2 separate regions of the Homo sapiens genome follow, and region 1 is linked to region 2. Evidence: fine-mapped expression QTL. A gene starts in region 2. The other region holds a variant in brackets. All regions are shown on one strand. Distances are from middle to middle. Region 1 overlaps TMEM132E (transmembrane protein 132E). Region 2 holds the start of TMEM132E (transmembrane protein 132E).

Evidence for each region. PIP is the estimated chance that this variant, and not a neighbour inherited with it, causes the effect. A credible set is the group of variants that fine-mapping cannot tell apart.
Region 1: its variant is the best candidate, but not a certain one, in a credible set for the expression of TMEM132E in whole blood (TOPMed, PIP 0.56).

Annotation. Positions count from the first base shown.
Region 1 is chr17:34,632,680-34,638,041 of GRCh38, reverse strand. TMEM132E (transmembrane protein 132E) reads right to left here. Exons shown (of 9, transcript NM_001304438.2): 6 at 5,133-5,338; 7 at 2,955-3,243; 8 at 1,844-2,035; 9 at 1-865. Among named protein-coding and RNA genes, the nearest start is that of TMEM132E, 56 kb to the right of the region's middle. The variant G/T (reference allele first, on the strand shown) is at 2,301.
Region 2 is chr17:34,576,906-34,582,267 of GRCh38, reverse strand. It overlaps TMEM132E (transmembrane protein 132E), which reads right to left and starts at 2,686. Exons shown (of 9, transcript NM_001304438.2): 1 at 1,125-2,686. The coding sequence starts at 1,191. It overlaps TMEM132E-DT (TMEM132E divergent transcript), which reads left to right and starts at 2,899. Exons shown (of 2, transcript NR_160787.1): 1 at 2,899-3,397; 2 at 4,648-5,362. RefSeq lists enhancers at 2,662-3,197, 3,198-3,734.

The sequences.
Region 1 (5,362 bases), 56 kb before region 2:
GCTTGCGCTTGGAGGTGGGCGAGCTGGCGGGGTCCTCGGCTTGGTCTCGGGCTGAGCCGCCCGAGGAGCCGTCGCCCCTGCCGTGCACCTGGCTCTGGACGCTGGTCTGCGAGCTGCCGCTGCTGTGGTGGTCGCCGTGGCAGAAGGCGGGCACGGTTTCCAGCGGGTTGCCTGCTGGCGGCGACAGCTCTCCTTGCACCCGCAGCGGCTGCCCGTTGCCCAGGAACACCCAGTGGTGAGAGTGGTCCATGCTGGTCTGGCCCTCGGGCGGGATGCGCTTGTGCCGGTAGCGCAGCACAAAAACGATGCAGTTGATGAGGAAGACGAGGATGGCGAGGCAGAAGACGCCCAGCAGCGCGTACATGCCGATCTCCAGGTCTGTCAGACCCCGTGGCACCTGCAGGAAGCCGGTGGGCAGCGGCAGGAAGTCTTCTGTGGGTGGCACGACGGGGCTGGCGGTGCCCGGGCCTGGAGCCTCCGGTGCGGGTAGCGCAGAGCCCGGCGGGCCAGCTCCCCGGGCCTCGTCCTCGCCCCCGCCGGGCCCTGGTTGGCTGGGGCCCGGGTAGTCATAAGTGGGGTCCTCCTCGTCCCTCCCAAAGTGCACCCGCAGGCCCACAGGGGTCGTGGCGAGCACACTCTTGCGTTTGGTTTTCTGGCAGCTCTCAGCGATGGTTAGCTCTGCGCGAAGCAGCTCCCCTGACCCCTCGGCCTCAGCCACTACCAGAGGGAAGGCCCGGTCCTGGGTCACAGTGGCCACATGCTCATCCAGGCTGCTCACTAGCAGTCCATAGTCTCGTGGGCTGTAGAGGGAGAGTGGGGCTGTGGTGCCATCACTGTAGGAGAGCCAGAGGCTCAGTAGGGCTTCCTGGAGGAGAAGGAGAAGGAGGGGATAGGAGTCAAAGAGCTGGTTCAGCTGGCTTCCTGCTAGATCCTGGGCTCTGTAGGGGCAGGGACCACGGGTCTCTGGCTCCCTGCTGTATTCTCAGCACTGGAACTGTGCCTGTGACCTGTGGCGGGCATTCAGGAACTACTGTTCAAGTGAGAGTCCTCCTCACAGGGTGTGGGGAGGGTAAATCCCAGACCATGGCATCCAGGCCTCATACTGCTCTGAGGATGCCCTTGTCCACTTCACCCTTCTCCCCTGGATAACCTAAAGGTAAGTTTTGCCTTGGGTCTAATTCAAGTCCCTTCTGCTGCTGGAATAGCTCCATATCTCCATGCCTAACCTTGGGCTTACCCCCATCAGACAACAGGCTGTTGAGAATACACACCCCCTCCCCACTTCTGCCTGTTGGCTAAAACCTTCTGAGGATTGCCCTCCCTCCAGATGAGGAAGCAGGGTTCAGAGAGAAGTGATTGCCTTGGGGTGATGGAGTGAGTTAGGGACAGAGGACCCGTGTCCTAACTCCGGGCTCAGCACTTGATGCTCACCTCCTCACTCCCCAGGACTCTCACCTGTCACCTCCTCACTCCCCAGGACTCTCATCTGTCACCTTTCCACTTTCATCCTGTGGCTATGCCTGTGGTGTATACTTGGGGCTCCAGAGTTGAGTGAGGGTACTTCCTGGGGGTGATGTGGAGGTGACAGCCCTCTGTGAATCCAGGAGGGAGACCCTCAGAGGGAACATCTCAGGTGGCAAGAGCAGCAAGCAAGACCTTGCTCTGACCTCCCATGTAGATGTTGTGGCCATAGGGTGGGCAGTTGTGCAGGGCATGGAGGGCAGAGATCCTCCATTTCCTAAAGCCCTAATATGGGGACTCTTGGTGCTAGGGCAAAGCAGAGCCCCCAAGTTCTCCTTCCATACCACCAACTCCCTGGCTGGTGGGCCAAGGAGCCAGTTACCTGCTTGAGGAAGCTCAAGGTCTGTTGGGCAGCTGTGGTGGCTAGGATGGTGTGGCTGCTCCCAGGGCTGGGCCGCAGGGAGAGGGCCAGGCTGGCCACCACCTGGGCCTGAAGCTGTGTGATGCTGACCTTCTCCTCAGTCACCGTCAGCAGCGTCTCCCCGAGCACAGCCTCCGTCAGCGGAGACACCACCTGAGGCAGAGCGGGACCGGGGTGGGAGAGAACCAGGAAAGCACACCCCCCTGCCCAAGACCCCCAGCTAGGGAGAAATCCCAGCACTGCTGGAAGAGGGGCCTGAAGGGTGAGGCAGGCTGGGAGGCAGGACTTCGCAGCTCTGCCTCAGGTCTGCAACCAGGAACCAGTGTCCAGAGGTCATGAGAGGGTCGGGGGCTCACAGGAGCCAGGCGGGAACACAAATGAGAGAGGTGGGCCAATTCTAAGGAAAACAACAACCCCC[G/T]CATGGTGACTAGTAGCAATTGATGTGCAACCTCAATGTCAGGGAGACAAAAGGGAGTGGCGACAACTTAGAAAATGAGGGAACTCATTCTCGTGTATAGGAGGCACCAATACTGGCTTTAGCTGATTGTTACCAGATTCATTTTTTGTGAAACCAGAAATCTCTATATATTTTTTAAATGAGAAATCTCCCAATTTAAAACACATTGGATCAATTGTTTTACAAAGAAGATATGTCTGCAGGCAGATTCTAGCCCACAGATCACAACAGTTTCTTAGGTAGATGATTTCTATCCAGACACCCAATTGTCAGGGTAGAAACAAGTCAGGAAAGGTCAAAGTTGAGTTCCTAGATCACCAAATGCACCTTCCTGGACTCTAGGCTGGCTGACTCTCACCTGCTCCCCCTCTGCTCTCAGGGAGGGGTCTGCTTGAGTCACCCACACTGAGGATTGATAAAGGTTGATACAACTTGGAGTGAGAACTTTTACCAAGATGAAGCTAAAAGAGCCTGACCTTGGAATTTCAGACAAGGGGCAGGCAGGGAAGAGTGTTCTGGGGGCCAGTTGGGGTTAGGAAAATCTGAGTTCTGCACCCACAGGTAAATAAGGCTCCCGACACTGCCCCTTTGTGCTGGGACAGAGCCCATACCTACCTTAAAGGGGGTGGTGCCTGGCTCCAGTCCTGCCAGCGTGCTGCTGTCCACCATGTGTGCCACTCGGGGATCGCCCACCCGCATGAAGTCACTGACTAGGTCGGTGACCTCCACCAGCCAGTCCGGGCCTAACATGGTGACCACCTGGTCAGTGCCCTCGGATGATGTCGTGTGGAACTGGGTGAAGACCTGCAGGGTGGCATGCTGGTACTGCAGGGTGCAGCCACGGCTTGCACTCTGCCGCCGCTCCTCCTCCTCCTCATCCTCATCCTCGCTTTCCCGGACTGACCTGGGGTGGGGACATGCCATGCTGAAGGCTTCTCACCTGGACTCTGACCTGCACAGTACACACCCCGCACCCTTGCCCTGTTGGGTCCTCCCAGCTTCCCAGAAGCTCTGCAAAAGCAAGCTTCCTCTATGGCTCATGCCTTCCATCTCTAAGTTGGGAACCAGGAGTCCCAGCCTTTTCTCTCCTAGAAAAGTACATTCTTGACCCTACCTCCTGTCCCTCTCTGCCTCTTCTTGGCTTAAGCCAAGCCTAGGAATAGCTGGCGTCAAATCCTAACAGCAACTGCTGCCTCTTCTTCAGTACTAAGTTTGTGCCTGGCACTGTTCTAAGCTCTAACCTGGAGCAAATGTGATCCTTCTTACAGAATGCCAGAAATCTTAGCTGAATTGTGTCCTGCAGTTGTGTGGAAACTAAGCAGGACCTGTAGGTGATGAACTCGGACATTTAACTGAGGAGATTTCCAAGCAAGGTGTGGAAATCGTGGCCTGGTTTCCTCTTGCTGCTTTTAGTCAAATGTGAGAGGAGAGAGACACATAAATAAACTGTTAAGCAAAAGGGAACCTGGACTTGATGATTTGGGAAATTCTCAGCCTGTGCACGTTGCAAAAAATGCTAAAATTGAGAGGTTTACTGCCAGGAAGGTGTGCTTTGGTGAGAAAGCCAAGTGTTTTTCTCTGTAGCTAGTGCTTTGTTAGTGTACTGGAGGATCAAGCAACCAGAATATTCATTCACACAGAGCATTCTTTTACCTGGGTTCATTAATTTATTCCTCACAAAAATCCTATGAGGCAGGTGTTATTGTGCCCATTTTACAGATACGGAGATGGAGGCACAGAGTGGTTATGTAAGTAGCCCAAGTTTACACAGCTAGTAAATAGCAGAGGCAGGACTTAAACCAGGCTGTCTGGCTTCAGAGTCCGCTACATCCTTGCTACTCAAAGCAGTATCGCTATCACCCAGGAGCTGGTGAGAAATGCAGAATCACAGGCTTTACCCCAGACCTGCCCAGTCAGAATCTGCATTTTACTGAGATCCCCAGGTGATTCGTGTACACATTAAAGTTTGAGAGGCACTGGTCTACACACCTTACTCTTCCAAATCTCTCTGAGTTGAACTCAGCCCAATTCTCACTTGGCCACCTGTTTCTCTCACCACCTGCTTCCCTCTCCAGCCCCGCCCACCTCCTGCTCTTAGCTGCCTGTCACTTTCCTCTCTTCTCTTCCCTGCTGTGCTTTTCTCTCCAGCAGCTCTGAGTGGGTGATTGGAATGCGGTGAGTACACATGTATGTGCCCCACGTATGGGCACCCAGGTGCCTGAGCCTACAAGCCCGCAAGGGAGCCTGGGTATGAGTCACAGTGTGTCTGCACTCATGCACTCACTAGTGTGCCCTTGGTGTGCCCAGGCTGGGACACATGTGTACAGGTGTGTCTGCTTCATTTTGTCTGCCTGACTGCAGGCAGTCTCTTAACCTGTCTCCCCAGCCAACTCCTTTCAGTTCATCCTTTAAGACTTAGCTCAAGAGTTGTCTCTTCCAGGAAGCCTGCCTTGACTTCTCCTGGAGGGAGAGGGGGTTCTCTCCTTGTGCCACTTGATTCCCTGCACACGGGGCTTCCCACCCACCACCATGTTCTGTGGCATGCACATGCCTTCCTCCCCTGCTGGACTGAGAGACTGGCAGGGTCAGGCACTGGCCACATTCACCCCATCTCTCAAACACTTGCCAGTGCCTAGCACACAGTAGCTGGTCAATGAAAGCTTGTTGACTGCACAACCAACCTACAGACTATGTATACCAAGGGCCTTATACCCATATGCAGATCAGACTGTGGGCCGAGGCTGTATCCACCCATGAGTTTCCCAAGTATCCGCCATGGGAGAGGGGCTGTACCTCCGGTCGGGGAGGATAGGTACCCTCCAGCCCTTCACTTGGCTGAGGCGGGCATCTGAGAGCTCAATGTGCAAGGGCAGCTTGGGGACCCAGACTGTCATTTCCAGGGGAGCATTGAGGACGTCGTAGCGGAAGGTGACCCTGGCGTTCATGGACCCTCGAGACTCTTTTCCACTCACAAACACGTAGTCACAGCTGCTGGATACCTGGGGGAAGGGAGGAACAGTTGG
Region 2 (5,362 bases):
CCGAGGGCGCTCCACCAATGCGGAGAGCCCACTGCCCCCTCCATCTAAGCGCCCTCCATTCTGCCTGAGGCTCACCCCTCAGCGTGGAGCATCGAAACACCCCCGCCCCCCAACCCCGCCACGCCTTGCTGGTTAAGAAAATGTATCCCAGGTCGGCTGGTTTCACGTTAGGAGGGAGCAGAGGGCCCCGCTTCTCCACTCTCCTTTCGGAGCTCTCTCCCTCCCACCTCGGTCTGCTCCCCTCGCCTCCTGGAGCGTCTCCAGCTTGCGGAAGGCCCGCTGCAGCCTCCTTCCCTCTGGTCTGATTTCCCATTCTTGGGGGCTGTTCAAAAACCCGCTGCCCCCCACCCGTATGCCCGCTGTCCCACCGCCAAAGCGCGCCAACCTCAATCCCTCCTTCTCCCACCCCCTTTACCGCGGAGCCCGGGGCGAGCCTGGGGAGCAGACGCAACAGATTGCAGAATGCGAGAGCGCGGAGCCCGCTCCCTCCGCGCGCGGCCCGCGGCCCACCGCCCCGGCCTGTGCGGGTGCCCAGACCCCCGCCCTCCGGGCTCGCCTAAGCCGGCCATTTAGATGCAGCTCACAGGACCGCGGGCGTGCGAGCCGCGGCGGCTCCCCGGCCCGGAGTCAGTCCACTTCCCTTCCCGAGGACCGCCGCAGGAAGCGAGGCGACGGGCGGCGCGGCCCCGCACCGGCCTGCGCGCCCGGGGCGAGGAAAGACGCGATCCCGGCGGATCCCAACAGCCCCCAGCCCGGCCGGCTGCAGGGAGAGACGGGGGCGGGGGGCGGCCTGGACGCGATCCGGAGGATCCCTCGGATCCCTCTAGATTTCCGTGGGCGGACACGACCCCAGACCTTCGGGTTCGAACCCTTCTTTATAACCAGGAGAGGACTGGAGCGACACCCTCCCCCCACCCTTTTCTGGCGCCGGGCTCGGTCCCCTCAGCTGAGCTCGCCGGAGGGCTCGGGGGCTGGCGGTAACTCGAGCTGCAGCCAGAGACGCCAAACCCGGAGTGGCGGCTGCGAGTCCAGGGGGTGTGGGTGCTCCTCTCCCCAGTCTTCCCCGTACCCCCTCCAGTGGCGCCTGCCGCATCCTCACCCCCAGTCCGCGCCGCGACACTTACCGTGGGCGAGTAGCGCTGAGAGGCAGAGCAGGGCGGCGCCGCCGCGGCCCGACATCCCCGGGGCCATGGCCGAGGCGGGGGCGGGAGGGGTCCGAGAGAGCAACAGTCGACGACGACTTGGCCCCAGGCTGGGCTTGGTCACATCCAACTCAGGGCTGCCGTGGCGCCCGGCTGTCTCAGATGCAGCTCCGGGACCAGAGAGTGCAATTCGGGGACACTTTGCGGGGAGGGGGCGTCCCAGGCGCTGGCGGCTACACCCTCGGAGCCGGTGGGGGCGCAGCTCCGGGCGGGAGGAGCCTCCACCTCCCCCAGCTGGTGCCCCCTGCAGGATCTGCGAGGCGCGGGGGGAGCTGCACGTGCAGTCCGGAGCCCGGTGGCCGCGGGCGTCCCGGGGGCTACCTAGAGCCCAGTGCTGAATCTCCCGGCCTCACGGCCCAGCTCGAATCCGAACTCACTCGAGGGTGCCGACTTCCAACGCAATCCCCAGTTTCCTCGGTTTCGGTAGTAACCGCACATGGATAGCGCCGCTTTCTTCCTCCAAGCCCCTGCAGCAGCCCAGCATAAAAATCCCAGGTCAGGTGCAAATGAATGCTGTCTTTCTCAAAGAAAGAGAAAATCCAGACAACTTTAATCCATCTGGAGAAGGAAAAGTTTCCGTGCGGTGCTGAAACTGGCGACGCCGGTCGCCACCACCCTAGGCGACGCCCAGACCGGATGCCCGAGGCGGGCGGCCAGATGTTTGTCCCCTCGCAAGGCTCGCTCCTCCGCTCCAGCGCGCTTTCTCCAGTCTGGATCAGGGCCCAGGCTCCACACAGGCCGGCTCAGCGCCTCCTGCCCAGGCAGCCGCTCGGCGGCTGGGGCAAGGGTGGCGCGGCCAGAACGGGCTGCCCCATGTAGATGGGGCTTGGAGAAGCGAGGGAGCGAGAAAGCCGGCTAATGCGCCCTGCCCCGAGCCCTTCCTGCCCAGGACGTCGACTCCAGCTTGATGACCATAAACGCTGTAAGATGCAGAGGGGCTCCTGCAGCTCACGGCAGCTCCGGGCCACCCCGCTAAGGTCTCGCTGTCTCGGCAGAGAGGCGCGCTGCCCCGCCTCGCTCCTCGCCTTCCCTGGGGGAACCTGCACAAACCTTGAACTTTTCTGGGGTTCAGAGTCTCCGACGCCTCCTCCCCGCCGCCCCCACCCTGTCCCCGGACGCCCGTTCGCCCGCTGTCTCGATGCTGCCGGGCATCGGCTCCCGCTCCCTCCGAGTCAGTTTGGGCGAGCGGATCGCCGCGCCAGTCCGGGCTGCGGGCGGTGAGACGCGGGCGCGGCGCCAGGGGCCAGGGCAGCCGGCACCTGCGCAGCTTGCGGCCAGGGAAGCGGCAGCTGGTGCCTACGGGGCCGAGAGGAGAGGAGGTGCTGGCAGGGGAGCCGGCTCCCCATGGACGTGTGTGGGGGAAGAAGAAGAATCGAGGAGCAAAAAGGAAGAGGAGGTGGGGGAAGCCACAGTTGCACGAAGCAGCCGCCGCCGCCGTCGCCGCCTCCTCGGCGCTCGCGCCGGCTGCTCCGCCGTAAATGACTCGAGAGAGACACACACACTCGCGCTCGCCCGCCCTCCTCCTCCGTCCGGGATTCAGCGCCCACCCGGGCAGAAGCGGGCGCCGAGCTTGGCGCGCTCACTCCCACCCCTCCCAGATTCCCCGTGGTCACGTGGCCCCCGAGCGCGCGGCCCACAGCTCGCGCGCCACGGAGACTCCCCGACTCCTAGCTCCCCCTCCTCTGTCCACGTGTCCATTCCGCATTCCTAGCCTGGCGGCGCGCGCGGCTCCTTAATGAGACTCGGGCCAAGGGCCGACCTCGCGATTCCGCTCGCCCCTATTTTATGTTTGATTTTTCCTTCCCAACGCCGGCTAGCGCTGGGACCCGAATGGGGCCGGCCAGCTGCGGCGGGAGGAGCCTCCACCTCCCTCAGCTGCGTTTCTCCAGGGTAGACGCCACCGCAGTCACTGATGTCCCTTTTCAAAGGATGCACGCTCCCCACCGGGCGCCGGAGGTGTTTTGCAGCCGCTCTTCCAGAGGCGCGGGTAGGGGGCACCCTACCCCCACCCCCAGAGTTCGCTGGGCACTGGCTGGGAATCAGCCTCGCTGCTGTGCCCAGCTCCTCTCGGGCCGCGGGGGCTCTGGGGCTCAGCTTCGTGCGGGATGGGTCCGGGGCGCAGCTGTGGGAAACCTATTTATTCTGTTGCTGGGGAAGGAAGACGGAGAAGAGGAGGGGACAGTGCTTTCCTACAGGTTGTTTAGCAAGCCTTTAAAGAGGCATGAGGTGGGGGTGGGGAACTGCCCCTCTTGCATACTCACCCAGGCACCTGCTGACTAGCGGGAGGGGTGGCTGGAGTGATATCTGTTCCCACCATCAGGCCCTTTCCATTAGAGTGCAACCTAGATCAGACCCGGCAAGTCAACCTTCACACCTCATCTGTCAACCAGGCATCGGATCCATGGCAATGATTTTATAGCTTCGTTGGGTATCAACTCCAATCCCCAGAGGGTGAATTTCAATCCTACCCTGCTCTGGAGGGACAGGGTCTTCAATCCCATGGACATATCCCTACTGGGGAGGATATGGATCTTGAGGGTCACCCTTCCATACCTCTGCACTCAACTGGAGTGAGAGTGTGGGGCCAGGTCAGAGCAAAGCCAGCTGGGGCACTCAAACCGTGCCCTCCATCTGCCTGACTCCATGCTAGCCCTCTTGACCCTGAGAGTTTCCTTTCATCTAGGACGGTGACATTTTGTTTTTGGAAAATGTGCTTGCATTTTTCATGGAAGGCTTCCTCCTCCCTGGCTGCTGGCTGTTGCTGCCTCGCTTGGTACTGGGGCCTGTAGAGGGCTGCTCTGGCCCTTCCCCCACCCCTACATCTGTCTGGAGCTGGGGGGAGGTGCAGCCTGAGGAGAGCTGGCCAGCTCTTGGAGGCCCTGGGGATAGAAGGTGCTGGAGTCGTCAAAGAAGATTATTCTCATTAGGCCCCTAATGCCTGATGGCAATTAATGTCACCCAAGGGCTTATTCACCAACCCCCTGAGAAGCAAGCTAGCAATCAGGCTCTGTGTGGGGGAGAAAGGGGGAAAGATCCACCTCCTGAGGCAGAGGAGGGCTTCAGGAAGAGGAGGAAGGAAGCAGGGAGGGCCCTCCATCCCTGCCCAGCACCCCATCAGAAGGGTCATGGAGCCTGAGCATGGCCAGAAGGAAGAGACAAGGTGCTTTTCTGAGCCCAAGACACACCTTACCCTGTGTTGTGGATCAAATTTCCTTTCTCCTCAAATGTTCCCAGTTGACGCTAGGGTCTGAGGGGCAGCAATGTTGCATCTCTCCCAGCCATCTGTGGAAATAGCACAGTGTTCTGGTCAGGGTGGGCAGGGACTCAGACATAGAATTCTTCTCTCTGCAACCCCATCTCACCCCACCCCATAGCTCTTATGTGACCTTCCTTTGTGATTCAGTTTCTCCTCCTCCCTCCCTGTCTCTGTCCCTCCCTTTCACAGTAGTATGGTGCATATCTCCAACATCACAGGCATTGTAGGTACAACAGTGAGCAGGACAAAACCAGCTCTTGTCCTCATGGAACTAACTTTCTAGAGGGGAAGGCAGACACTAAGCTTCTAATTGCTTGCAATTGTGGTGTGATTTGGCATCATGCACTTCGCTCATCTTATGGAGAAGACTGAGGCCTGTGGTTGGAAAGGGCGAGGGAGCAGCCTGCTATCTTTAGAGAACACAGTTTCAGCCTCAAGTTCTTCCTGTACCTCCGATATGGATCTACCCTTCCTGGATTGAAGCCTTGTGCCAAGTCCATGGGCCTGATGATCCTCTGACTCTCCAAATGCCAGATTTTCCTCCTCCTTGCCTCAGGGAAGTGAAGGGCAGCCGATAGCCCACCTGGAGAATAAAATATGACTACAACCTGCAGTGCTCCATGGACCTGTCATTCTCAGCAGTGTAAATCCTACTGCTCAGAGAGAAGGCAGTTGGCACAAGGTAGACAGCCAGTTGTTTCAGCTATTCCAATCCTGCATGTCATTTACCTGGAAAGGGGTTCTATACATTCCCTCTGCCTTTCCTACTACCCCAGCAGACTGCCCTCGGTCTCACCTGTTAGTCCTAGTTACGGATTCCCAAACAGCAATGCCACTGGAGCTTAGATAAGGGGAAGTCAGAGGAGCCACCCCAACTGGAGCCCGGGCTGGAGAGAGGACCTGG